Linked DNA regions of Homo sapiens. The protein of the gene in region 4 interacts with the protein of the main gene of each other region in a biochemical or structural test. Each region holds a gene or a part of one and is shown on either strand. Other genes may lie near its edges.

Region 1 (3,500 bases), on a different chromosome or scaffold from region 4:
TTTCCCTGGGCAACTCTGAAAGGGAAAAGCCAGTCTCTTTCCCAAGCACACTGGCTCAGTCCAGCCTCCAAACCTTTGCTTTATGTCCTCATCCTGGAAGGACTGTCACCCACCTCGAGTCCTTCTCAGGAAACCATGTCTCACCACTTAGGCTCAGGCCAACCTCCCCCAGCTCTGCCTGGCACAGCCTTGCTGTCAGGGATCAGAAATGTCAGGGACAGGGGTGCTCAGAGTCACCACCCACCTGACCGTTGCTCATCTGGTTCCGAGATGGTTCTGGAATCTACTGAACTTTCCCGCCGAAGCCGGGGACTCTCCCTGGTGGGGAACAGATTGGGAGTGAGGCAGGGATGGATTTCAAGGGGCCATTTTAAAAAGAATTTTAGGCCGGGCACGGTGGTTCATGCCTGTAATCCTAGCATTTTGGGAGGTCGAGGTGGGCAGATCACCTGAGGTCAGGATTTCAAGACCAGCCTGGCCAACGAGGTTAAACCCCGTCTCTCCAAAAATACAAAAATTAGCCGGGCATGATGGTGGGCGCCTGTAATCCCAGCTACTCAGGAGGCTAAGGCAGGAGAATTGCTTGAACCCGGGAGGCAGAGGTTGCAGTGAGCCAAGATCATGCCACTGCACTCCAGCCTGGGCGACAGAGTGAGACCTTGTCTCCAAAAAAATAAATAAATAAATAAACAAAATAAAAATAATTTTAATTTATCTGGGCTGGGCGTGGTGGCTCACGCCTGTAATACCAGCACTTTGGGAGGCTGAGGCAGGCCAAATGCTTGAGCCCAGGAGTTCAAGACCAGCCTGGGCAACATAGCTGGGCAATACAGACCCCATCTCTACCAAAAATATGAAAATTAGCCAGTCTCACATGACTCAGTCTCAAAACAAATAAATAAATAGAGGAAAAAGAAATTTTTTTTTTTAAGACAGAGTTTTGCTCTGGTTGCCTAGGCTGCAGTGTAATGACACGATCTCGGCTCACTGCAACCTCCATTTCCTGGGTTCAAGTGATTCTCCTGCCTCAGCCTCCCAAGTAGCTGAGCTTACAGGCACCCGGCACCACGCCGGGCTAATTTTGGTATCTTAGTAGAGACAGGGTTTCACCACGTTGGCCAGGCTGTTCTCGAACTCCTAACCTCAGATGATCCACCCTCCTCGGCCTCCCAAAGTGCTGAGATTACAGGCGTGAGCCACCGCACCTGGCCTAAGGCAGAGTTTGATACTAAGAAGTGGGGTGCTGCTGTAACCAACACCTACAAATGCGGACACGGCTTTGGAACTGGGTAATGGGTAGAGGCTGGAGGTATTTTGAGGCACATGCTAGAAATACAGGACTGCGTCCTCAAGGTTACCCCCAGTTGGAAAGCTACGCCCGCGTTCCCCTCTCCCTCCCACCTCCCTCTCCCTCCCTATCACCATTCTGGCCGATGGGTGATACTTACACGGGAGAGTCGGTCTGGCTGGCCTCGGGGCTCCGCTGAGCATGCCGGGGTGGTGGTGGGATGTGGGATGGTGGTGCCTGCGATAGCTCCGAGGCGAGGTCCGAGATGTCTGCAGGGGGAGAGGACATCTCATCAGCCATGGTCACGCCTTCTGGACTGGACCCATTTTACAGAGGGGTATATCAACACCCCTCTAAACAAAGGGCCCTAGACCAAAGTCAGAAGCTCAGTTAGAAGATTCGGCTCTGGAGCTGGGCACGGTGGCTCACGCCTATAATCCCAGCTACTCAGGAGGCCAAGGCACGAGAATCGCTCGAACCCAGGAGGCAGAGAATCGCTTGAACCCAGTGAGCCGAGATCGCCCCCCTGAACTCTTGACTTGCTGTGTGGCCTTCAGCAAGTTCCTGTCACTCTCTGAGCCTCTAGGGACCAGGCTCATTGATTCCTTGGCCCTGCCTGGGGCTTCCCACCTTCCCTGCCATCCATTCAACCCCCTCCCAGGTCCTAACCTCTAGGTCCTCACCCTCCAATGGCGAGCTGTCGCTGTCACTGACAGCAGGCGGAATGTTCACCAGGAACTGCCCACGATCTCTCAGCACCAGCAGGCTTAGCTTCCCTTCTGACTTCTCAATCAGTCGCCGGGTGTCGTTCAGTGACAGGTTCTGGCTAGACACCCCGTTGATCTGAAAGGGACCAGGAATGAAAGAGCGGAAGTGAGTTAATGAGAGATGGGAGACAGTAGAAACAGCCTGGTGTGGGGGAACTTGAAACAGACAATTCCCCCAGAGGTTGCTAAAAACAGCCACTCCCTAAGGAAAGTGTTGAATTGGATTCCTGCTGTGAGTGGAGACCACACCAAGAACTGAGCACCGAATTCTAGAAACAGAAAATGTTCTAAGAGGGGTGGGAGACACTGGGGAAAATGAGAAACAGGTTGACTCTCCTTTCTTACCAAAAGTGGAAATGTCTCAGGGGATACTAGGAACAGATGTGAGGGTGACATTATAAACAACTCTAACTGGAGAAGAGGGAGTATCAGATACTTAAAAGATACTAGAAACACACAATCTTCTGGGAGATAACTAGAAACAGATATCTAGAGTGGGGCGCGGTGGCTCACGCCTGTAATGCCAGCACTTTGGGAGGCAGAGGCAGACAGATCAGTTGAGGTCAGGAGTTCAAGACCAGCCTGGCCATCATGGTGAAACCCTGTCTCTACTAAAAATACAAAAATTAGCAGGGCGTGGTGGTGGGCGCCTGTGGTCCCAGCTACTCAGGAGACTGAGACAGGAGAATCACTTGAACCCGGGAGGTGGAGGTTGCAGTGAGCCAAGATCCCGCCACTGCACTCCAGCCTGGGTGACAGAGCGACACTCCATATCAAAAAGAAAGAAAAGAAAAGAAAAAAGAGAAGAGAAAAGAAAAGAGAAAAGAAAACAGTCATCTAGAGGTAGATTAGAAACACACAATTCCTAGAAAGAACTTAATGTCGGCCGGGTGTGGTGGCTCATGCCTGTAATCCCAGCACTTTGGGAGGCCGAGGCGGATGGATCACCTGAGGTCGGGAGTTCGAGACCAGCCTGACCAAGATGGAGAAACCCCGTCTCTACTAAAAATACAAAAAATTAGCAAGGTGTGGTGGTGCACGCCTGTAATCCCAGCACGTTGGGAGGCCGAGCGGGGGGGATCACCTGAGGTCAGGAGTTCGAGACCAGCCTGGCCAACATGGAGAAACCCGTCTTTTCTAAAAATACAAACATTAGCTGGGTGTGGTGGCGGGCACCTGTAATCCCAGCTACTCGGGAGGCTAAGGCAGGAGAATCACCTGAACCTGGGAGGCGGAGGTTGCAGTGAGCCGAGATTGCGCCACTGCACTCCAGCCTGGGTGACAGAGCGAGACTCTGTCTGAAAAAAAAAAAAAGAAACAGATAACTTTTTGAAGACACTGGAAATAATCAGCTGAAAGCAATTTGGAAATCAAACACTAGGAGTCACTAGAAACAGACTTTCAGGGGAAGAATCCAGAAAGATACCATCCTTTAGGGCAGGGCA
Region 2 (3,500 bases), on a different chromosome or scaffold from region 4:
GGTGAAACCTCATCTGTACTAAAAATACAAAAATTAGCTGAGCATGATGGCGTGCACTTATAGTCCCAGCTACTCAGGAGGCTGAGGCAGGAGAATCGCTTGAGCCCAGGAGGCAGAGGTTGCAGTGAGCTGAGATTGTGTCACTGCACTCCAGCCTGGGCGACAGAGTGAGACTCTATCTTAAAATAATAATAATAATAATGATAATAATAAGAATAGACAGGGCACGGTGGCTCATGCCTGTAATCCCAGAACTTTGGGAGGCCGAGGCAGGTGGATCACGAGGTCAGAGTTTAAGACCAGTCTGACCAACATGGTGAAACCCTGTCTCTATTAAAAATACAAAAATTAGCTGGGCATGGTGGTGGGCATCTGTAATCCCAGCTACTCAGGAGGCTGAGGCAGGAGAATCAATTGAACCCGGGAGGCGGAGGTTCCAGTGAGCTGAGATTGTGCCACTGCACTCCAGCCTGAGCGACAGAGCAAGATTCCGTATATATATATATAATAAAATACATATAATAATGTTGAGAATAGGAAGATAATTAAACAAATCAGTAAACTGAAAACAAAATTATATCAGGCAGATAAATGACATGAGTGTAACATAAAAAATCTAGAATACATTGAACTTGTTTTTGTAAAATGGGAAAAAGACAATAAAAATAATATACTAATCACACTGTGATCTTTTACTAGTTATGAATCCATTAAGGACAGCAGTTCTGCTCATTTTTCTTTTTATTCTCAGTTTCAAGTGGGGTACTTGGAACATATTAGGAGTTCAAAGTGTTTAGTTGAATGAATATGTGACTTCAAGGCAAAATGATGTTAATAATCTCAAACTATGCTATGAGAAATGTTGCACAAGTTATACTATGGGAAATGTGTCAACAGCAGCCATAAGACCAAGGATAATCTCTACGATTATTCAGAATATACAGGTGTAATCACGCCATCCAGTACGCAAATAAAACTGATGGCTTACATCATGTCATCTTCATCCTATAGTGATAGCCTAAGTATTCAAATAGATACATTAATATTTTAGAGTAAAAAAAATTACTTATTGGGGAAGCTACCTCAGTTTGTTTTCAGCTGGCATATTGATAAGCAACACACATTTTTTACTCTTAAATTTCTGCAATTAGTTTGAAGTAGTGCCTGGGTCAACATTTGAATACTACTGTACTGTATTAACAATTGTCCCCAAGCTTCCCAAACTGGATATATTCTTAATGGAAAAACATTTTATTTATTCCCTCTGCTTCATTTGAGATGATCATTTGCTCTAAAAAATTACCATGATAGAGATGATGGATTAAACCCTTTGATTTTGTTTTCATCTTCATTTATGGTTACACATTAAAAAAAGAACAAGCAACATATCAAATGATGTAGTTCAAATTGTTGGCCCTACCTGCTCCACCTCATTGGCAGTGGGCTGCATTGCTTCATTATGCTCTTCTTCCAACATCTCCAAGTTTAACTCCTCTAAGAATTCATTCCTTTCATCTTCCAGCCAGCCTTCATCCAGCTGCAAAAGAATACATTAGTACATTATATTATGTTAGTGAGAACTCATGTTAAAATAGAGTAAACTTAAATGGCCGGTGCCCGACGAGTTCCTTTTATCATAATGATTCTCTTCAGAATACCAGCCTCCCACAGTTCACCTCTCAGAAAGAAGAAAAGGTGATAAAAAAAAAAAAAAAGGACTCTTATGCCTTTTATCCTTTCCTGAAATGGGACTACAGATTTTCTCTCATAACCAAGTAAATCTCACAGCACAGAATATTACCTTCTTTCAAAATGTATGAAAAGCATCCTGCATAATCCACAGCTGTCATGCTCATTACCTCCAACAGTCCCGTGTTAAAAGGACTGCCATGCTACTAATTGGGCTATGAGACAATTGGGCTGTTTTCTTTAACAACAACCCCCAACGAGACTGCACACAAAGTTCCCCCCATACGCTCGTGCTATCCTCATCCTGCTTTTTTCTTTTTAGGTGGGCTCCCATGTCAACAAGATGGCTGCTTGCCACAAAAGAATGTACAGAAGACATTTATTTTGTCTGTGAAGAAAGGAAAATTCTAAGTTATTCTTCTCAAGGAAAGGAAAGAAAAGCAATATTACTCCATGTCTATTTTAATTTGTTTTCAGGCCCAATTTTATAGGAAAAACACCTCAGTGGATGCGACATTTAAGGGTGGTGGAGTGGTGTGGGGCATGCAGGGTTTTGTTTATGGGTGTTGAAAACAAGTATTCTTGTAGGACTCTTAATGCAAATTGAACTGAACAAATCCCTTCGGCTTTTCAATACAAAGTGAAGTGGAAAACTGGTGGTTACCTGGCTAATATGATCTAATATGATCAGTGTTGACAGTTACTACAGATAATTTGCCTCAAAGTGGATTTTTGGAGCTGGATTACATAAATTAGCTGTCTATGCTGATTAAATTAACTGGATTATCGTCAAAACTCTGCATCACCCTGTACAAAGAAATAGCATTCTAGTGAGCAAACATGGATAATAGTTTGAGATATTTTCACCACCAATGAACTGGCAAAATAAGCTTTTAAACATAACTGAACTTCTACAACTTAAAAACAAACTGGAAAGGACATTCAGCTGCACCAAAAGAGGCATTAGCATACAGGTATCATCTTTATTAATATGCAGGCAAATCATAGATTTCATGATATCTATTAAAGGCCATGTAGAACTTAAATGACCTCAAACTTAACTGGGGCCCAAAGTGCTGGCACATTTGTTCATCCTCATTTATCTTAATGTCGCCTGAATAATTTGATCAAATTCCTGTGACTTTGATATGCAGATGAGCTATGAAAATTATGCCAAGTAAAAATGTAAATTCAGCCCAATTTATAATTGTTCAAATTTTACATTCTTTAATCTTTTTCAAGTATCATAAAGCTACAAATGCCAGACATCATAAAAAATTACTTAAAATGGGGAGTGCTTACTATTCACAAACACATCAAGGAATTTTTCTTTAATCAGGTCAAAATAAAGTATTTTCTAACACTGATATATTGAATGATGAAACAGAGTCCTTTGAGGATTAAATGAAGTAGTGGGGAAAATAAAGAGAAAATGGTCAAAATTAATGATTCCCCATAACTCTTTTCTTATTGAGTAATCCAGTAGATTCCTGAGTTGCCAGCCATAGTCATTATATGTCTATTTTGATAAGGCTTTCTTTTAGGCTGGAGGTGCACACAGCACAATTAGCAAAGGGAGATTCTTCTTGCTCACTTCCTTCTTCTCTCCTATTTCCCCCTTTCTACCTAGATGTACATTCACTATGGTCTGAGTCTAATGTAACGGCAGAGACAGACATCTCCCTTGAGCTGAGCTGCAGGAAAAGAGGGATTGTTACTACTAAGAGTGGGGATCTATCTGCACCAAAGGGGGCCACATGTGGCATCTCAGAAAAAGGAACAACCTACACTGTCTCAAAGGTAGTGGCTAC
Region 3 (3,500 bases), on a different chromosome or scaffold from region 4:
GTGAAGTAGTTAGTGTTTTAATTACTTTGTAGAGGAGATAAGCTCAGAAGGGTTAAAAACCTTGCTCAAGGTCTAAAACCTTGTAAGGTCTGATCATTACTACCTAGACCCACCATCCCACTCCAGCAATGACCGCCTGTGCTAACTGTATTATCGCACAAAGGTGGTAATGCTTGGAGTGGACATTCATCTGCTCTTTTACCTGCGTGACATCGCTGCTGCTTGTCTTCCTTTAGACAACTGCTCTGCCTCCCTCTAAAAACCCACATAGTGTTGGAATGGGCTGCCAATCACAGTAGCCCATCACCTTACCCTGGGGTTCCACTGCTGGGCACAGTGCCAAAGCTGAGCCAGTCTTAGTCCTCTAGCCCTGGCCACAGTGACCGGGCCTCATGTGGACACATAACACTGGCCAGACCAATCAGAATCCTACCATGAGGTTTGTCTGCCTGGGCTGATTGGATAGAGCTCCCTTTCTTCCCTGGTCAGGGGCTGTGAACCTGAACAGAGGGGCCTGAGGTCATGTTCAGACCCGTGGGAAAAGCCCACAGCATCGATCCAAGAGGTCAAACGTCCCAAAGGCCAGTTTCCACCATCCATCCAAAGGTTGTGGAATATTCTAAGTCAATACATTTCTCTTTTTCTACCTAAGATGATCTGAGCTAAGTTTCTGTCATTTTGCAATAAAGGTACCCTGAAATGATACACAGATAAAATCTGCCCTTCACTTAAAAACCTCTTCTCAACCATTAATTTCAAATGACTCTGCCACTTCCTCTTAAATAACACAATTAAAACCACCTAAATTAGCCATGCAGGGTGGCATGCGCCTGTAATCTTAGCTACTAAGGAGGCTGAGGCAGGAGGATGGCTTGAGCCCAGGAGTTTGAGGCTGCAGTGAGCTATGATTGCACCACTGCACTCCACTGTCTCTAAAAAATAAGTAAATAAACAAACAAAAGAACCAAAAGAAAAACCACAACAGCTGGAGCTTTTACTTATGTCCCTTGCCCTGCTGACCCTCCAGGGCAGAGGGGATGAAGAAAAGGTGGCTGGTACCCGAAGGAAGTGGAGAGAGAACAAAAGGCCAGGCAACCTCTGCTGAATAATAAATAACCCACACCTGACAATCAGCACCCATCTGCATTAGTCCCACTAGAAAAGCCTGGCAGGGTTATTCCCTTGGGGAAAAAAAACAAACTTCCAGCTCTAATTTCTGACAGTGTACAATGCCTAAATTCAAACCTCCCACTCAGCCTAGCCATTAAGGTCCTCCAGATTACCTCTGCATCCCCAATTCCCTTCCACCCAGAGCCAAGGCCAAACCCCTGCTCTGCTCAGGCTGGGTAAACACATGGCTCCTCTCTATGGCTCAGCCTGTGCGGTCCAGCCTACGCAGCCCACACGTCCTCCCTCCATGGCTCCATGCATTCAGAGCTTCACTTCAACACCAAGTCCCAGCACATTCGTGAAGCTCTCCTCGGCTTCTCCAGCGGACGCTGCTGGCTCCATTCTCTTAAGTTTGATGAAGCAAGCCAGCCAGTTCACTAGGAAAGTAAAGAGGAGGCACAGGAGGTGTGGGGAGTGGGAACGAGAAGGAAACATCAGGCAATGAGCACGCGAGAGGTCCAGCCAAGTTCTGCCATTTCTGCCTCCCAATAGAGGCCTGGTGGGAATGACTTGAGGAGTCCCACATTTAGATGGTAATGAGAGCCACTAAAGGTGAATGAGAGTATCTGGGGAAAGTGTGTAGCATACCGAGTTTTTTATAAAAGAAAAAGCCTGTTTGTGCATCTCTATCAGTTGACCTGTCTCATAATGTCACTCTCATGAGCGTCCCATTCCCCCAACAAGGCGGCAAGCTACGGACTAGAATTACATCCTGTGCACCCCGGCCCCTGTCTACACCCCAGCCCCACCTGGGCCAGGCACTTCAATGCTCCCGGTGACAGAGGCAGGCAGTGCAGCACCATTAGCCCCATCTTACAGATGAAGATACTGAGGCTCACCCCAGGGGCAGGGAGTTGAGAATCCTCAAGGGAAAAAACTCAGGTGTTTCCCCAAATCAAAGGGAAAAAACAAAGGACTGCATGGGGCTCCAAGTGACCAAGCTAGACTTGGTTACTGGGAAAAACAAGAGACCCAACTGAGCCACTCAGAAGTAAACAATTCTGTCTTCTCCCTACCACCAGCTGGGGCAAAGGTGTTCGCTTGTTCCCCGCAGATCCATGTATCAAATCCGGGACAAAAGAAAGCTACATAATTTCAGAGTCCCACAGTGACTGGAAATGTCCTGAAATTGTAGTGGGAAGGCCTAACCAGGGAACAGGAAAAACCACCCCAGACAAGGAATCAGGGGCACTGGGCTTGGCCTTGACTCAGGCACCTTTCTGCCCTGCGACTTCTTCCTTACAGACAGGGCCCTGGAACCAAAGATCATAAGACACCACTCATCTCCCTGGGGCTGCCACAGAGTTAATGAGATATGAAGATAGGACACAAAATCCTGAATGACAATGCCCTATCAATACCGGAATAAGAGCCACACCTCCAACAAAAAAACCACAACACAGTGTGTCTCCTAGTCACTCCACACCCCCAGGCCTGAGCGTGGTAGGTTTAAATGTCTGGGGATCTAACTCAGCAAGAGTTGCCCCGATGGGTTGGGTTTGCTCACCTGCCCACCAACACCCAGGCACATGTCCTCCCCAGTTTCCTTCCAGTTCCAGGCCCCACGTGGTAGGCTGCTGCCGATGCAGACTCCCTCAGCACCCAAGTGCCAGTGGGGGATGGGCATTCTGGATCAGGAGCCCACACAGGGTGTGGAATCCATCAAGGAAGCTCCTAGGTGGGTGATGGCATCATCTCCAACAGAGAATCGGTGCCAAAGCAGCCACCCCTTGACGCTAAGGATCCCAGGGAGCCAGCTGGTTCCTCTCTCAGGCTCCGCAATGGCCTCGAACTGAGGCCAATTCAAACCCAGAGCTGCTGCCCAGAGCACAGAGTGGAAATCACTCAGGAGTGGAAGGAGGCAGGACCAAGTGCTGGGTTTTCCTGACTATGGCTCCTCAAGGAAGAAGACTTCCATTCCTTCAGCCAGAGCCGCTCTCTTATGCACTGAGCTTTGACCATAAGGAATACTTCCTGGCTAAAAGAAAAAAAAGCAAAAAAGTGGAGACCTACAACACAGCAATTTACCCTTCACAAAGGAGCCTCCCCTGCGCCGGGGCAGTGGCTCACGCCTGTAATCCCAACACTTTTGGGAGGCTGAGGCAAGCAGATCGCTTGAGCTCAGGAGTTCGAGACCATCCTAGACAACATGGAGAAATGCCATCTCTACACAATATACAAAAATTAGCTGGTGTGGTGGCATGTGCCTGTGGTCCCAGCTACTTGCGGGGCTGAGGCAGGAGGATGGCTTGAGACCAGGAGGCGGAGGCTGCAGTGAGCCGAGATTGTGCCACTGCACTCCAGCCTGGGTGACACAGTGAGACCCTGTC
Region 4 (3,500 bases):
CTGATGCCCAGAGGCAGGAACAGATGTAGGAATTCCAGGATGCATTATGCCTCAGGAGGCTGAGGCAGGAGAATCACTTGAACTCAGGAGGCGGAGGTTGTAGTGAGCCGAGATTGCATCACTGCACTCCAGCCTGGGCCACAGAGTGAGACTGTCTCTCAAGAAAATGAAAAAGAAAGATAGAGAGAGAGAGAGAAAAAGAAAGAAAGAAAGAAAGAAAGAGAGAGAGAGAGAGAAAGAAAGAAAGAGAAAGAAAGAAGGAAAGAAAGAAAGGGAGAAAGCATTGTGTGAAGATGAGGGAAAGAAGAAAAGAAAGGAAAGAAAAGAAAGAGAAAGAAAGAAAGAAAAAGAGAAAGAAAAAAAGAAAAGAGAAAGAGACAAAAGAAAAGAAGAAAAGAAAGAAGAGAGCGAGAGGAAGGAAGGAATTGTGTGGAGATGAGTGAAAGCAGGCAGAAAGATAGCGGTCAGCCTGTGGTCCCTCCTGGCTGCCCCCATAGTGGGAAGATGTCCATGTCCTAATCCCCAGAACTGTGACTATGCTATACTACATGGCAAGGGAGGATCAAGGGTGCAGATTGAATTAGATTGCTAATCAGCCTAACTTTTTTTTATTGTTGAGATAGGGTCTCATTCTGTCATCCAGGCTGAAGTGCAATAGGGGGATCATAGCTCACTGCAGCCTTGAACTCCCAGGCTCAAGTGATTCTCCCACCTCAGCCTTCCAAATAACTGGGACCACAGGCATGAGCCACCATGCCCAGGTAAGTTTTTTTTTTTTTTTTTTTTTTTTTTTTTTTTTTTTGAGACGGAGTCTCGCTCTGTCGCCCAGGCTGGAGTGCAGTGGCGGGATCTCGGCTCACTGCAAGCTCCGCCTCCCGGGTTCACGCCATTCTCCCGCCTCAGCCTCCCAAGTAGCTGGGACTACAGGCGCCCGCCACTACGCCCGGCTAATTTTTTGTATTTTTAGTAGAGACGGGGTTTCACCGTTTTAGCTGGGATGGTCTCGATCTCCTGACCTCGTGATCCGCCCGCCTCGGCCTCCCAAAGTGCTGGGATTACAGGCGTGAGGTAAGTTTTTAAAATTTTTTGTGGAGATGAGGGTCTCGCTGTGTTGCCCAGGCTGGTCCTGAACTCCTCGCCTCAAGCGATACTCCCTCCTCGGCCTTCCAAAGTGCAGGGATTATAAGACAATCAGCTGATTTTTTTTTTTCTTTTAAGACAGAGTCTCACTCTCCCTCTGTCATCTACGCTAGTGTGCAGTGGCGAAATCTCGCTTTACTGCAATATCCACCTCCTGGATTCAAGCGATTTTCCTGCCTCAGCCTCCTGAATAGTGAGGATTTAGGCATCTGCCACCATGCCCAACTAATAGTAGAGACAGTTTCACCATGTTGGCCAGGCTAGTCTCCAACTCCTGACCTCAGGTGATCCTACCCCCTCAGCCTCCCAAACTGCTGGGATTACAGGTGTGAGCCACCCCGCCCGGCGTAATCAGCTGATCTTGAGAAAATTAACATAGACTATTTGGGGAGGAGGCAAAGTTATCACAAGGGTCCTTAACAGTGGGAGAAGCAATTGAGGAGGCCAGAGTTCATTAGAGGGAGATGAGGCTATGGGAGAAAGACACAGAGAGATGCAGGCTTGCTGTGGGAGGCTCCAGAAGCTGCAAAGGGCAAAAAAATGGATTCTTCCCTGGAGCCGCTGAAAGACAACACAGCCCTGGTGACGCCTTGATTTCAGCCCAGTGACACCCACATCAGACTTCTAATCTACAGAATTCTAACATGATAATGTCGTGTTGTTCCAGCAGCCAGATTTGTGTTTGTTGGCCCGGCAGCAGTTGGAAACTGATACAGCTCCAAGCAGCCCAAGTCAGGAGATGGGCCCAGGAGGGAGGGTAGTCCCAGCCACCTCCTAAGGGTGAGGACGGAGAGGAGCATGACACAGGGCAGCGGAGGGCATGGGAGAGATGGCAGGGAGGGAAGGACCGGGCAAAAAGGCATGGGTGCCTCCAGGCCCCACAGAGGGATAAGTCTGGGGAGAGTCAGTGACACCCTGTGGGAGGAAGTGCAGAAGGCATAGCTCTGGCAACTCACCTAGATCCACCTGTTCCACAGCAAACTCACAACTGGAACCATAGAAGGTGCTGGGGCACTGGCATTTGAGGCCATCCCACTGACCCCCATTCTGGCATCTGGTCTGGAGCTGACAGCGGTCCCCAGAAAACCCCGGAAGGCAAGCACACTGGCCCTGTTCCCAGGTGCCACCATTGTCACAGGTGCCTGGAAAACACAGAAAGAAAGGGAAGCTCAGGATAAAGCCTGACCTCAGTGACACAGGAATTTTGCAGGGGAGGAAGGAGGGGAACAGAGAGGCAGAAGGTCCAACCTGCAGTGGTGGTCAACGTGGACTGTGTGGTCATCTGAGAAGTGATGCGAGTTGTCCTGCGTGATGTAAGGGTGGTAGGAGTCTGGGTAGTGGCCACTGGTGTCTCTGAAGTCCTAGTGGTGGGTGGGGAGGGGTGTGTTGACTTGCTTGAAGTCCTCAGGATGGTCGGGAGGCTACTGCTTGGTTTCATGGTGAGCGGGATGGTAGAGACGCCAGGAAGAGGTAGGGGGATCACAGAACTGTTGCTCAGCCAGGTCTCACTGGTGGGCAGTCGAGTACTTGTGAAAACTGTGTTTGTGGGTACAGTCCCAGTGCCAGTGGAACTGGAAGCATTGGGTGAGATGCTGGACTCACTTTCTGGCATCATGGAAGAAGTGTCCATATATGTAGTAAGAGTAGTTTGGATACTGATGGAGGTAGGACAGGTGACCATTTCGGTAGTAAAGGGAAAGACTGTTAATGGGGTGGTGGGAGGAGAAGTAGCTTCAGTGCTGGGATCCATTTCAACACATGGATCAGTGGGGGAGGCAGGGACTATGGTAATTGTTATAGTTCCTGGACAGGGTGTGGTGGAGGGAAGGGAAATATAAGAAAAGGGGGTTATTTCAGTGAGAGCTGTGGTCAGAGAGGAGCTGGTTGAAGAAGTGCTGGTAGTTGCAGAGGAAGAGAGACTAGGAAAGCCTGTGATAGAAGCGGAGCCCACATTTTCTGTACTGAAAATGTATGGTGAAGAAGGAACAGAATGAATGGTAGTGGAAAACACTGGAGTTATGCTGGCAGAAGATGGAGAAGAGGACATGATAATAGTGGGTGTTGAGGACCAGATGATGGTACTAAAAGAAGTCAAGATTGCATTTGTAGACGTACTTCCCCTAGTGAAAGATTCTGTAGTGAACTCACTTGTAGATGTGAGTGAAGTTTGCAATGAGGGAGTAGAAGGAGTTGTTTGAAGGGTGGAGGAATGTGTGCTAGGAATAGGAACCTGTGATGTTGACACGATCGTGCTCAAGGCTGTTGATGGAGTAAGAGTATGAAGAGTGGACGTGGAGGAATCCGTACTTCCAAAGGTGACAGTAGTAGGTGCAGGAGATGTTTGGGTCCCAGTGGCTGAC
Region 5 (3,500 bases), on a different chromosome or scaffold from region 4:
GCAATTCTCCTGCCTCGGCCTCTCAAGTAGCTGGGATTACAGGTGTGTGCCACCACGTCTGGCTAATTTTTGTATTTTTAGTAGAGACGGGGTTTCACCATGTTGCCCAGGCTGGTCTTGAACTCCTGAGCTCAGGTGATTCGCCCACCTCAGCCCCCAAAGTGCTAGGATTACAGGTGTGAGCCACCGTACCAGGCCCTTCATGGATATAATTTATTAGTGAAAAGATACAAAGCCAAATCAGCAAAACAAACTGGCATTCAGAGCGAAGTCTGCAGGAAACCAGGCACAAGCTTCCAAGGGTCTTCCCTTAGTGGAGAGGACTTGCTTAATTCCCCCAGCAGTGAGTTCTTACCACATGTGCGAAATGTTGCCTACCAGGAACACTCATTAGTGACTAAGCACCCAAGGTTTTTACTGCAGACTGATCACATAGGCACCTTCTGCTTAGCATATACAAAAATTCCAGACTCCCAGAAAAAGAGCAGGTGTTCAGCATAAGCCATATTGTTTGCAGAAACAGTTTTGCACAGTGAGCCATTCCGATAAGGGAATGATGGTAGCCCTCCACAAATCTAACTTTCCAGATGCCACCAGCCAAGGCCCCGCTTCGCAAGCAGGGCTTTCTAAGGATAGCAGTCTCAGGCCTGCTACATTAACTTTTTCTGCACAGATAGTCAGATCATGTAGCACTTCCAAGGCCATTTAGGAGAGATGTGCACCATTGGAAGATCTTCAGTAGAAGAATGACATGACCTGATTATAATTTTAAATTATCACTCTAGCTTTTGTGTTAAGGAGAGACAGTAATGTGGGAGTCTCGGGGGCAGAAATGGAGACACTAAAGTCTATTTAAAGAAAAAAATAATAAAAATCAAGCTCCAGTATACTAACAGGAAAGAGACTGAAAAGTAGTCAGATTCCAAATCTAGTATGAGAGCAGAGTCAACCAGATTTGCAGAATGACTGTATGTGGATCATGAGAGAAAAACATTGGTCAAGGGTGATGACAAGCATTTCTGGTGAACAGCTAGAAAGATGGCCTTGCCATTTAATGACATGCTTAGATTGTAGGAGGACTTGATTTGGAGTTGGGGATTAGGAATTCATTTGGGGGCATGCTATAAGTGTAAGATGCCTACCAGATGTCCAGGCAAAGGGTCAAGAAAGCCGTATATAGAGCTGGCAGTTCAGGGAAGACACCTGGGCTGGAACTACCCCAGTGGTATTTGGAACCACATTACTGTAAGCAGAGAGAGACAGGTGGAGACTTAAGAATTGAGTCCTGGGGTACTGTAGTGCTAAGACGTAGAGGAGGAAAGAAGGAACAACCAAAGAGCCTGAGAATGGACAATAGATAGGAAAAAAGTCAGGAGAGTGTAGGTTCCAGGAAGCATGTGCTTAAGATGTTTAGTATTTTTAAAATTTTTTTATTTCCATAAATTATTGGGGAACAGGTGGTGATTCATTACATGACTAAGTTCTTTAGTGGTGATTTGTGAGATTTTGGTGCATCCATCACCTGAGCAGTATGCACGGCACCCAGTTTGTGGTCTTTTATCCCTCATGCCCTTCCCACCCTTTCTCCCTGAGTCCCTGAAGTCCTTTGTGTCAGTGAGAACTCCCACTTATGAGTGAGAACATACAATGTTTGGGTTTCCATTCCTGAGTTACTTCACTTGCCGTAATAGTCTCCAATCTCATCCAGGTTGCTGCAAATGCCATTAATTCAGTCTCTCTTTTAATGGCTGAGGTGTATTCCTTTATATATATGTGTGTATATATATATATATATATATATATATATATATATATATATATATGGATATATATAAATATATATCCATATATATGTATATAGCCATATATATACATATATATGTATATAGCCTTATATATACATATATATATATACACACACACACACACACACACACCCCACAGATTCTTTACCCACTCGTTGACTGGTGGGCATTTGGGTTGGTTCCACGCTTTTGCAGTTGCAAAGTGTGCTGCTAAACATGCATGTGCAAGTATCTTTTTCATATAATGACTTATTTTCCTCTAGGTAGATACCCAGTAGTGGGATTGCCGGATCAAATGGTAGTTCTACTTTTAGTTCTTTAAGGAACCTCCACACTATTTTTCATAGTGGTTGTACTAGTTTACATTCCAACCAGAAGTGTTCACTGTTCACCACATCCACACCAACACCTATTTTTTTAAAATTTTTTGATGATGGCCATTCTTGCAGGAGTGAGGTGGTATCACATTGTGATTTTGAGTTGCACTTCCCTGATCATTAGTGATGTTGAGCATTTTTTTCTTGTTTGTTGGCCATTTCTATATCTTCTTTTGAGAATTGTCTATTCATGTCCTTGGCCCTCTTTTTGATGGGATTGTTTGGTTTTTTTCTTGCTAATTTGTTTGAGTTCATTGTAGATTCTGGATATTAGTCCTTTGTCAGATGTATAGATTGCAAAGATTTTCTCCCACTCTGTGGGTTGTCTGTTTACACTGCTGACTGTTCCTTTTGCCATGGAAAAGCTCTCATTTCAAACTATACTATAAGACCATAGTCACCAAACAGCACGGTACTAGTATAAAAATAGGCCCATAGACCATTGGAACAGAAATAGAGAACCCAAAAATAAACCCAAATACTTACAGTCAACTGATTTTCAACAAAGCAAACGAAAACATTAAGTGGGGAAAGGACACCCTATTCAACAAATGGTGCTGCGATAATTGGCAAGCCACATGTAGGAGAATGAAGCTGGATCCTCACCTCTCAACCTTACACAAAAATCAACTCAAAGTGGATCAAGGATTTAAATCTAAGACCTGAAACTACAACATTCTGTAAGATAACATTGGAAAAACCCTTCTAGACATTGGCTTAGGCAAGGATTTCATGACCAAGAACCCAAAAGCAAATGCAATAAAAGCAAAGATAAATAGCTGGGACTTAATTGAACTGAAGGTGTTTAGTATTTCTATCAGTCGAGAAGCATCTAAATCTCACTAAAAATGGCCCAGATTTTTGTTCACTGCTCCTTCTTGGCCCACTCTCCACCCAGTACCAGAGACAGAGGATGTACATCCTCAGCCTGTTGCACCAAAGGTGTAAACTGAGGCCAACCTGGGCTTACTCTCAAACCCAGCTAGTTTTTGTGCTAGTGTCTAGGTGGAGCATTTAAGGTTTAAAGGCTCTCTCTACCACCTGTGGATACCAAAGAGTGGCTGAAGATCCCTTTCTGATGGCAAAGTTCTCAACAGAACTGAGTAGCAATGTCAAGTTAAGGACTGCCTGGGATCTGGTCTTTAAGCCAGTGGTTTCCAAAAGCAGCTGACAGAACCCATCAGAAGAGCATTGGATCTGAACTGTCCACTAAGGCAAGCCATTTGTGGCGATTTACATTTAAATTAAAATTTAAAATTCAGTTCCTCAGTTGCACTAGGCACATTTCAACTACTTAACAACCACATATGTCTAGTGG
Region 6 (3,500 bases), on a different chromosome or scaffold from region 4:
ACCTCACCCTGGGACAGGGCTCCATTCTTACAGCTCCCTCAGCTGCCACAGTTTCAGAGTCTAGGGGCAGCAGGGACAGTCCCCCAATGCCTCAGGAAAGCCCTAGGCAGTGCTGGGACCAGGGTACTGGGGCACTGCCCCATCCTATTCCGCACACAGCAGGCGCTCCAAATAGCCTTGCAGGGCTGACCTTCCAGACACAGGTAGGAGCAGGAAGATGCACACACCTTGGCCCAGTGCTTACCTGGAGCCAGGAGGTCTGCTGGGGTGTGGGCCTCTGCCCTGGCAGGCAGGGGCTGACACTCATTTTACAAATGCAGACCTGAGTCTCAGAGAGGGGAAGTGACTGGCCCAATGTCACCCACAGTGTCAATGTTGGAACAGAGGTCAGAATCTTGCTTGGCTTTGCCATAGCCCCAGCTCTTGCTTCCTGTGTTCCCTGAGCCCACCATGCGTCCCCACAGAGCCCCAGTTCACCTCTCAGCCAGGCCACGCTTGGTGAGGCCTGAGATGACAATGGGGTCAAAAGGTTCCTCCGTGCCCGAAATGGTGATGCCCAGGGGACCCCCGTAGCGCTTCAGCTCCACTGTGTAACTGACGGCACCTGTGGTCTCCAGCTCATCTGCAAGCACGGGGACCCATGAGGAGGAGGCCCCCGAGGGGGTACCCAGCTTCCTAAAGCCTTGGCCTCACTCACTCACTCATACTTATTTATTAATTCATTCACCCAGTCACTCACGCTCTGATTTCATGTAGCACAACCTGGGGACCCTGAGGCCATCTTCTGCCCAAATACCAGTAAAGAAAAGAAACATCACACCTCACCCACAATAATGACAACATTGATGACAAGAAACAGTGGCCTCTTTTCCTCCAGCAGCCAGCAGGAAGCAAAGGGAACCCCGATCATCCGTTGTTTTTTTTTTTTTTTTTTTTTTGAGACAGAGTCTTGCTCTGCTGCCCAGGCTGGAGTGCAATGGCACGATCTCAGTTCACTGCCATACCTCTGCTTCCAGGGTTCAAGTGATCCTCCCACCTCAGCCTCCCAAGTATCTGGGACTACAGGCATGCACCACCAGACCCAGCTAATTTTTGTATTTTTTGTAGAGATGGGGTTTCGCCATGTTGCCCAGGCTGGTCTCGAACTCCTGGGCTTAAGTGCTCCACCCACCTTGGCCTCCCAAAGTGAGGGGTGTACAGGTATGAGCCATTGCACCTGGCCCAACTTTTCTTAAAAGAAAAGAAAAGAAAAGAAAAGAAATCTACCTCCCACAGTAACCTTCTTTCACAGAGTCGGAGTTGGTGATTTGGAGGCTGCCCCTTTGAATCAGGGATTCACTTTCCAGTTGGCGCAGTCCTCACCCGTCCCTTTTGCCTCTCCAATCCATACAGCTTTTCTCACTCATTTATATCACTATCTGGCGTCAGTGGGGCCTGAGTCTGCAGTCTTTGCTTATCCACTCATAGCCTGCCACTCAAAAGGGCAGCCTCGCTCTTCCCCTGCCCTACCCACTCATCTCTCCACCAGCTGCACCAGCTGCACCCAGTAGGTCTCCTCTGCCAGGCTTGGTGCTAGATGTGGAGACTACGGGAGAGTCTCAAACTCCTGTCCACCTCACAGAGGCTCTGGAGGGCCCCAGACGCCGGGGACAGTGAGAAATCTGTGGTGTTGCCCCCTCCTTCATTTGTTCATTCCAGCCAGCCTTCAGCAGCGCCCACCACCCTCCCTTCCTCGGCTGGAGGGAGCCCTGAATTGCAAGCTGGGAACCCGCTAGTCAAAGGGTGGGCCTCTGGAGGTAGGAGGCCAGCATGAGGGCCATACCAGAGTTGTCCTCGTCCTTCCGGATCTTCAGCTTCACCAGGTCCTCGCACTGCCGCAGGATTTGCACGGCGTCCTCCATGGGGCAGTTGTCCAGGCGGATATTGTCAATGGCCAGTAGCTTGTCGCCTGGCTCCAGGGTGCCCGTCCTGCATGAGTCGGGGGCAGAGGGGATGGAAGGAGCCTGGTGCATGCAGGTGCCATACTCACTGCTGTTGGCCACTTCCCTTCCTGTGCCCCAGTGCCCCTACCTGTGTGCCACGCTGCCTTTCTTGATGTCGGAGATGATCAAGGGCTCCCCTCGTTTCCTGCTGGCCGCTGGAGAAAAAGAGGCCATGAATCTGACCTTGGTGGCCTCAGCCTGGGGTGGGGTGGCGAAGCCCAGGGGTCTGAGTGTGGACTCGGAGCCACTGGTCCTACTCACATCCTGGTCCCACTGCTTCCTGGCTGGGTGACCGTGAGCAAATCAGCTCACCTCCCTGTGCATCAGTTTCCCCCCTGTAAAATGGGGGTGGCACCGCAGACCTCATGGGGATGTGGTGAGAGTAAACCAGATAACACAGGCACAAGATCCAGCATGGCCCTTCCAATGCCAGCTCTTCTTTCCTCCTGCTCAGCCCATCCCCCAGCAAACTGCGAGCTCTTTGTGGAGGGGGGCTGTCTGCTTGGTGTCTGTGTCCCCAGCACCGGGCTCAGGGCCAGCACCCAGGCTCTATTGTGTGCTTGGGGGTGGGAGACACAGAAGTGAACAAAACAGACAGCAATCTCTCCCTGCCCTCCTGGAGCTGGCACTCCAGTGGTGGTCACAATCAACAACATTTAAACACCGATGAAGTGAGCTGTGGAGAAACCTGAGAAACGGGCTTGTGTCGAGGGCGGTAAATGTTCAGTCAGGTGGTCGGGGAAGGCCTTGTCAAGTGACATTTGGGCAAAGCCATGAAGGAGGTAGGGAAGAGGCCAGAGGAACGGTCTCAGATGCAAAGGCCCAGAGGCAGGAAGGGGCAGGCATGGCAGGGAGCAGCCAGGCTGACTGCGGCTGGAGGGCTTGAGTTGGGGAGAGTCGGGAGATGAGGTCAGAGGTCATGGGGTCCAGAGCACAGAGGGCCTCACTGGGGCCCGAGGCCCTCAGCTTTTACTCAGAATAAGATGGGAGCCACGGGAGTGCTTTCACCTTTCCCATGCTCACCCATTCTACGTTTTTCTTCTGCATTCCTCATTTTCATTCCTTTGACAAACATGAATTAAGCACCTACTGTGTTCCAGGCCTTTGCTGGGCTCTGAGAACACAGAAGCAGGCAGAAAACCAAACCCAGCCTAAATATTTGTCACCTTCCAATGCTCTCTCACCATGGGCACCTCACAAGCCCCCTGGGAGACCCACGAGGCCAGGGGACTGCCATGGTGCAGAACGGGAAGCTGAAGCTTTGGGAAGCTGGGGTCTCGCTGAGAACACGCAGCTGGGTCCACGGAAGCCAGCCTCCCCACACCCCCAAGCCTTTTCCTCGGGCCCCGCAGGGTGTCACGCCATGGAAATGCTGGTCTGAGCTTGGCAAGCTCTTTTTCCCCAGCAGTTGAGCTCGCTCCCAGGGGCAAACAGCAGCGGGAGGAGACTCACAGCTGATGGTGATGCCCAGCTCCACGCTGCGCTTCTTGGGCAGCTTCACGTGGAAGGTGCCACTGC
Region 7 (3,500 bases), on a different chromosome or scaffold from region 4:
GAGTCCTAAGCTCAGCCCCTTCTCTTCAGGGGCTTCCTGAAAGAGTGGCACTTACATAGGCTTTCTCTGCCATCACAATGTGGATGTGTAGCCCATACAGGGCAGGAAAAAATAGAATGGGTACCATCAGCCCACGCAGGGACTGCTTAGGGCACGTACCCACCTCTGCAAGGATGCAGACACTCCGGGGCCTGTGCCGCTGGGCTCTCGCTGCTTGTCCCACGCAGCCTCTTCCTGAGCAGGTAGCTTCTGTTCTGCTGCACAGAGGAGCTTTCCTCCACAACTCTTTTCTCCACCTGGGGGTCAAGTGCATCACACATCCACATCCCAAGATAAGGAGGGGGCGTTTTTATAGATACATGCAAACTGGCTGTCAGACTGAATCAATGTGGAATTGTCTGCCCTATACGGTGACCTAAAGATGTGTTCTCTGGCACCCAGAATGTGCTCTGTGCCCACCCCCTGCATGCACCCTGAAGGCACTTCACTCCCCACTCCAGACCTGCACACTCACACACATCTGTGCCTTTGCTCATGCATTCCCTCCATGGCTACAGCCTCCCCAGAAGCTCCTCTGTGCCCACAAGACCCAGAGCTGTGTGCTTTCTACTTCTAAGCCTCTCTACCTCTGCCGTCTGATCACCTTCCCTTATCACTGCACTCACACCTGGCTCTGTTGCATCATGTTCCATGAGTGTGCTGCTTGTCTGTCTCCCCCAACATCTCTGTGTGCTTTATGCACCACCGTAGCACACCTAATGCAGTGCCCAATGAATGTTGAATACGTGACTGACATCTACCTTGCAGATCCCTGACGGAAATGTTGCAGGTCAGTACACTGTCTATCCAAGGACAATGGCACACCAGTGGATGGTAGACCTCAGTATCTTTCAAATAAATATAGTCCATTTCCCCCACCAAATCCTCTGGCTCAATTCATAGGAGCCACATGTTCCTATGCCAAGAGAGAAGGGGTCCAAGAAGGAGGCCTTCTCTGATGGCAGAGGCCTTCTCTGATTGACTGTTGCCGCTGTCCACCCTGCTGTCCCCACATCTCCATCCACTTTGGCCCTCATTAATCCTGCTCTCAGCTCTCCAACTTGTCCCTGGACAAGTGCAGCCACTCAACTGGCCTCTAGCTTACCTGTCTCTGGTTCCTCCCAAATACAAACTTCCTTACATTTTGTGCCATAGGCACCTCACTTGCCCATCCTATCCCAGCTCCACTCAGGTCTCATGGGGGACCAACTCCATGGTGCCATTCCTGCAACAGAGCTCCCCAGGGGGCCAGGCTGGGCCTGTCTCCAGCTGAGACTATATCCTTCAACTTGTCAGCTGTACTACCATCACTCCCCTCTCCCAGGAACATTTCCCCAGTAAATAACTTGCACAAGAATCCCTGTCTCTGGGTTAGCTTGGAGGGAATCCAACCTAAGCCAAATGCCTCCCATGTGCCAGGCCCCTTGCTGCACTCTGTGGAGTGCACAGGGCAGCAAGCAGCACAGTGTGACAAGCACAACAAAGGACACCCCACAGGTATAAAATAGCAGAGGGGAGGGTACCCAGGGACCACAAAAACGAAGTCGGGGAAGGCTTCTGTGCAGAACCTAGAGTTGAATTTTGATAAGAAAACTGAATCATGGGTTCTAAACATTATTGCTTTATGTAAGGACGCACTTGCAAAGATGTCAAGGGTCTTAGCCATGTGACAAACTGGGGCTTGCCTAAAGGTCTTTGTTAGCACTGCCCAATAGAACTGCAATGACAAGAATGTTCTAGATCCACCCTGTTCAATAGGGTCATCACCTGCTACGAGTGGCAACGGAGCACTTGAAATGTGACAGATGTGACTGATTAATTTAATTTTTTATTTTATTTTAGTTAATGATAATATAACTAATTCAAATTTTAATAGCCACACATGACCAGCAGCTACTGCTTGAAAAGCACGGTTCTCTACTGACCTCAGAAATGGTACCCAGAACCAAGCCAACCAGCCTTCTGATGTGGAGACCAGCAGGGGCTGGGTAGACAGACACTTCTTTCTCATGAACCCGACAAGCTTCCAGAACCGACTGCAACGTGCACCGCCTGTGAGGCTGGTCTTCACACATGGTCAGCAGGATGGAGTGCAGGGGCTCGCAGAGCTGCAGGGGCTGGAGGCAGACAGGGCCGGTGAGAGGAGAGAGCAGCCAGAGCTGCCACTACGAGGCCAGCACCTTGTCAGGCAGGCCTTGGAGACATGGAAACGGGTGTTCCCACAAGCACCAGAGCAGATGCCTGCCCCTTCTGGAGAGTTTAAGGACAGACACAAGATCCATCACTGAGGCCGCAAAGTGCGGAGCAATCATCTCTGCAGCAATTCTGTGTTGTCTGCTGCTTTCTAAACCAGAACATCCTTCTGCCCAAGCACATGCTTGGAATGCTCATGAAAACTAGATGCTTTGACAAGATGGATTTCCACCTGTGCCAAGCACCCCAAATCAAACCAGAGGTCAGCCTTTCACTCAAGTTCACCTGCGTAGCTTGTCATTGTATCCAATCACTCAGGGGGTCTCACTTGGCCTTTCCCCTGGAATGTGAGCTCCTGGAACATACAGACTGTGGCCTATTCCTGTTCACTTCGGAACAGCCAGCAGTCAGCACAAATGCTCAATCGTTGTTGGTTGAACTTTATGTCACGTGTACACATCGAGCAAAAGAAAACAGAAGCATCTTATAAGCATTTCCCTCATGCATTTAAATGACCACAATTCATAGGAGAAAGTCCTCAAATTCAGATTCAAAATCAGACTTTTTCTCAAGCTCAACACACACTGCAGGTCACTTTCCAGATAAAGGCTGCACTACCGCTTCTTGCTGGGGAGCATCAGCTGTGAGCACCTATCTCTGTGTACAGCCAAGCTGCTGAGTCCTGCCGTCACAGTAAATCCAGGCGTCTTTTGTGCCTGGTGCTGCACAGCCACACCAGATACAGTCCCTGCCTTCAGGAAAATAATGGTGTGATGAGAGAGACGGTCACTAAAAGAGACAAAGACCATAGAGGATGACAAGGACTTTCACCTTGGGAAGCACAGGCCATGGCACTAATGTAGAGGAAGGGGCTTAGCCAAGGCTAGAGTTAACCAAGAGGAAAGTGGGGAGTGAGGTGCTGGTGAAGGGATCCGTGTGTACAAAGGCACGAAGATGCAGATGAGCTGACATGCATCTGAAGGGAAGGGGATTATGAGCAGGACAGGGGCCTGGGGGAAAATAGCAATGTGGGGTCCCTTGTTCAAAATTATTAAGAATTCCAGGACAGTGATAGCAGAGCATTAAACTAAGTGCAGGACCCTGTGCTATGACACAGGGTCACACACTCAGGACACACACCCAGGAAGCCGGTCCTGATTATGGCAGAGTGCCAAAGGGGAACCAGACGGGAGCAGGGACCCTATCCTAGGCTCCAGGTGTGTCTCACTGAGAAGTCAGAAGGCAACCCCACGGCCAGTGAGGCGTTA

What was found.
Region 1: the proteins of MUC3A (region 4) and TJP3 interact in a test that uses a peptide from one of them, tested with the Homo sapiens proteins (one large-scale study listed by IntAct).
Region 2: the proteins of MUC3A (region 4) and PDZRN4 interact in a test that uses a peptide from one of them, tested with the Homo sapiens proteins (one large-scale study listed by IntAct).
Region 3: the proteins of MUC3A (region 4) and DLG5 interact in a test that uses a peptide from one of them, tested with the Homo sapiens proteins (one large-scale study listed by IntAct).
Region 5: the proteins of MUC3A (region 4) and PARD3B interact in a test that uses a peptide from one of them, tested with the Homo sapiens proteins (one large-scale study listed by IntAct).
Region 6: the proteins of MUC3A (region 4) and GRIP2 interact in a test that uses a peptide from one of them, tested with the Homo sapiens proteins (one large-scale study listed by IntAct).
Region 7: the proteins of MUC3A (region 4) and FRMPD2 interact in a test that uses a peptide from one of them, tested with the Homo sapiens proteins (one large-scale study listed by IntAct).

Annotation. Positions count from the first base shown.
Region 1 is NC_000019.10:3,732,384-3,735,883, reverse strand, and holds part of TJP3 (tight junction protein ZO-3), read right to left. Parts: intron 2,132-3,500; coding exon 1,972-2,131; intron 1,558-1,971; coding exon 1,449-1,557; intron 319-1,448; coding exon 245-318; intron 16-244; coding exon 1-15. UniProt on the Homo sapiens protein: TJP1, TJP2, and TJP3 are closely related scaffolding proteins that link tight junction (TJ) transmembrane proteins such as claudins, junctional adhesion molecules, and occludin to the actin cytoskeleton.
Region 2 is NC_000012.12:41,565,820-41,569,319, reverse strand, and holds part of PDZRN4 (PDZ domain-containing RING finger protein 4), read right to left. Parts: intron 3,490-3,500; exon of another isoform or gene 3,014-3,489; intron 1,538-3,013; coding exon 1,421-1,537; intron 1-1,420.
Region 3 is NC_000010.11:77,920,256-77,923,755, forward strand, and holds part of DLG5 (disks large homolog 5), read right to left. Parts: intron 1-3,500. UniProt on the Homo sapiens protein: Acts as a regulator of the Hippo signaling pathway.
Region 4 is NC_000007.14:100,959,534-100,963,033, reverse strand, and holds part of MUC3A (mucin-3A precursor), read right to left. Parts: coding exon 2,389-3,500; intron 2,283-2,388; coding exon 2,097-2,282; intron 762-2,096; exon of another isoform or gene 719-761; intron 1-718.
Region 5 is NC_000002.12:204,551,975-204,555,474, reverse strand, and holds part of PARD3B (partitioning defective 3 homolog B), read right to left. Parts: intron 1-3,500. UniProt on the Homo sapiens protein: Putative adapter protein involved in asymmetrical cell division and cell polarization processes. May play a role in the formation of epithelial tight junctions.
Region 6 is NC_000003.12:14,509,343-14,512,842, forward strand, and holds part of GRIP2 (glutamate receptor-interacting protein 2), read right to left. Parts: coding exon 3,435-3,500; exon of another isoform or gene 3,097-3,434; coding exon of another isoform or gene 3,095-3,096; exon of another isoform or gene 2,351-3,094; intron 2,138-2,350; coding exon 2,071-2,137; intron 1,969-2,070; coding exon 1,823-1,968; intron 623-1,822; coding exon 478-622; intron 1-477.
Region 7 is NC_000010.11:48,240,197-48,243,696, forward strand, and holds part of FRMPD2 (FERM and PDZ domain-containing protein 2), read right to left. Parts: intron 2,157-3,500; coding exon 1,965-2,156; intron 297-1,964; coding exon 164-296; intron 1-163.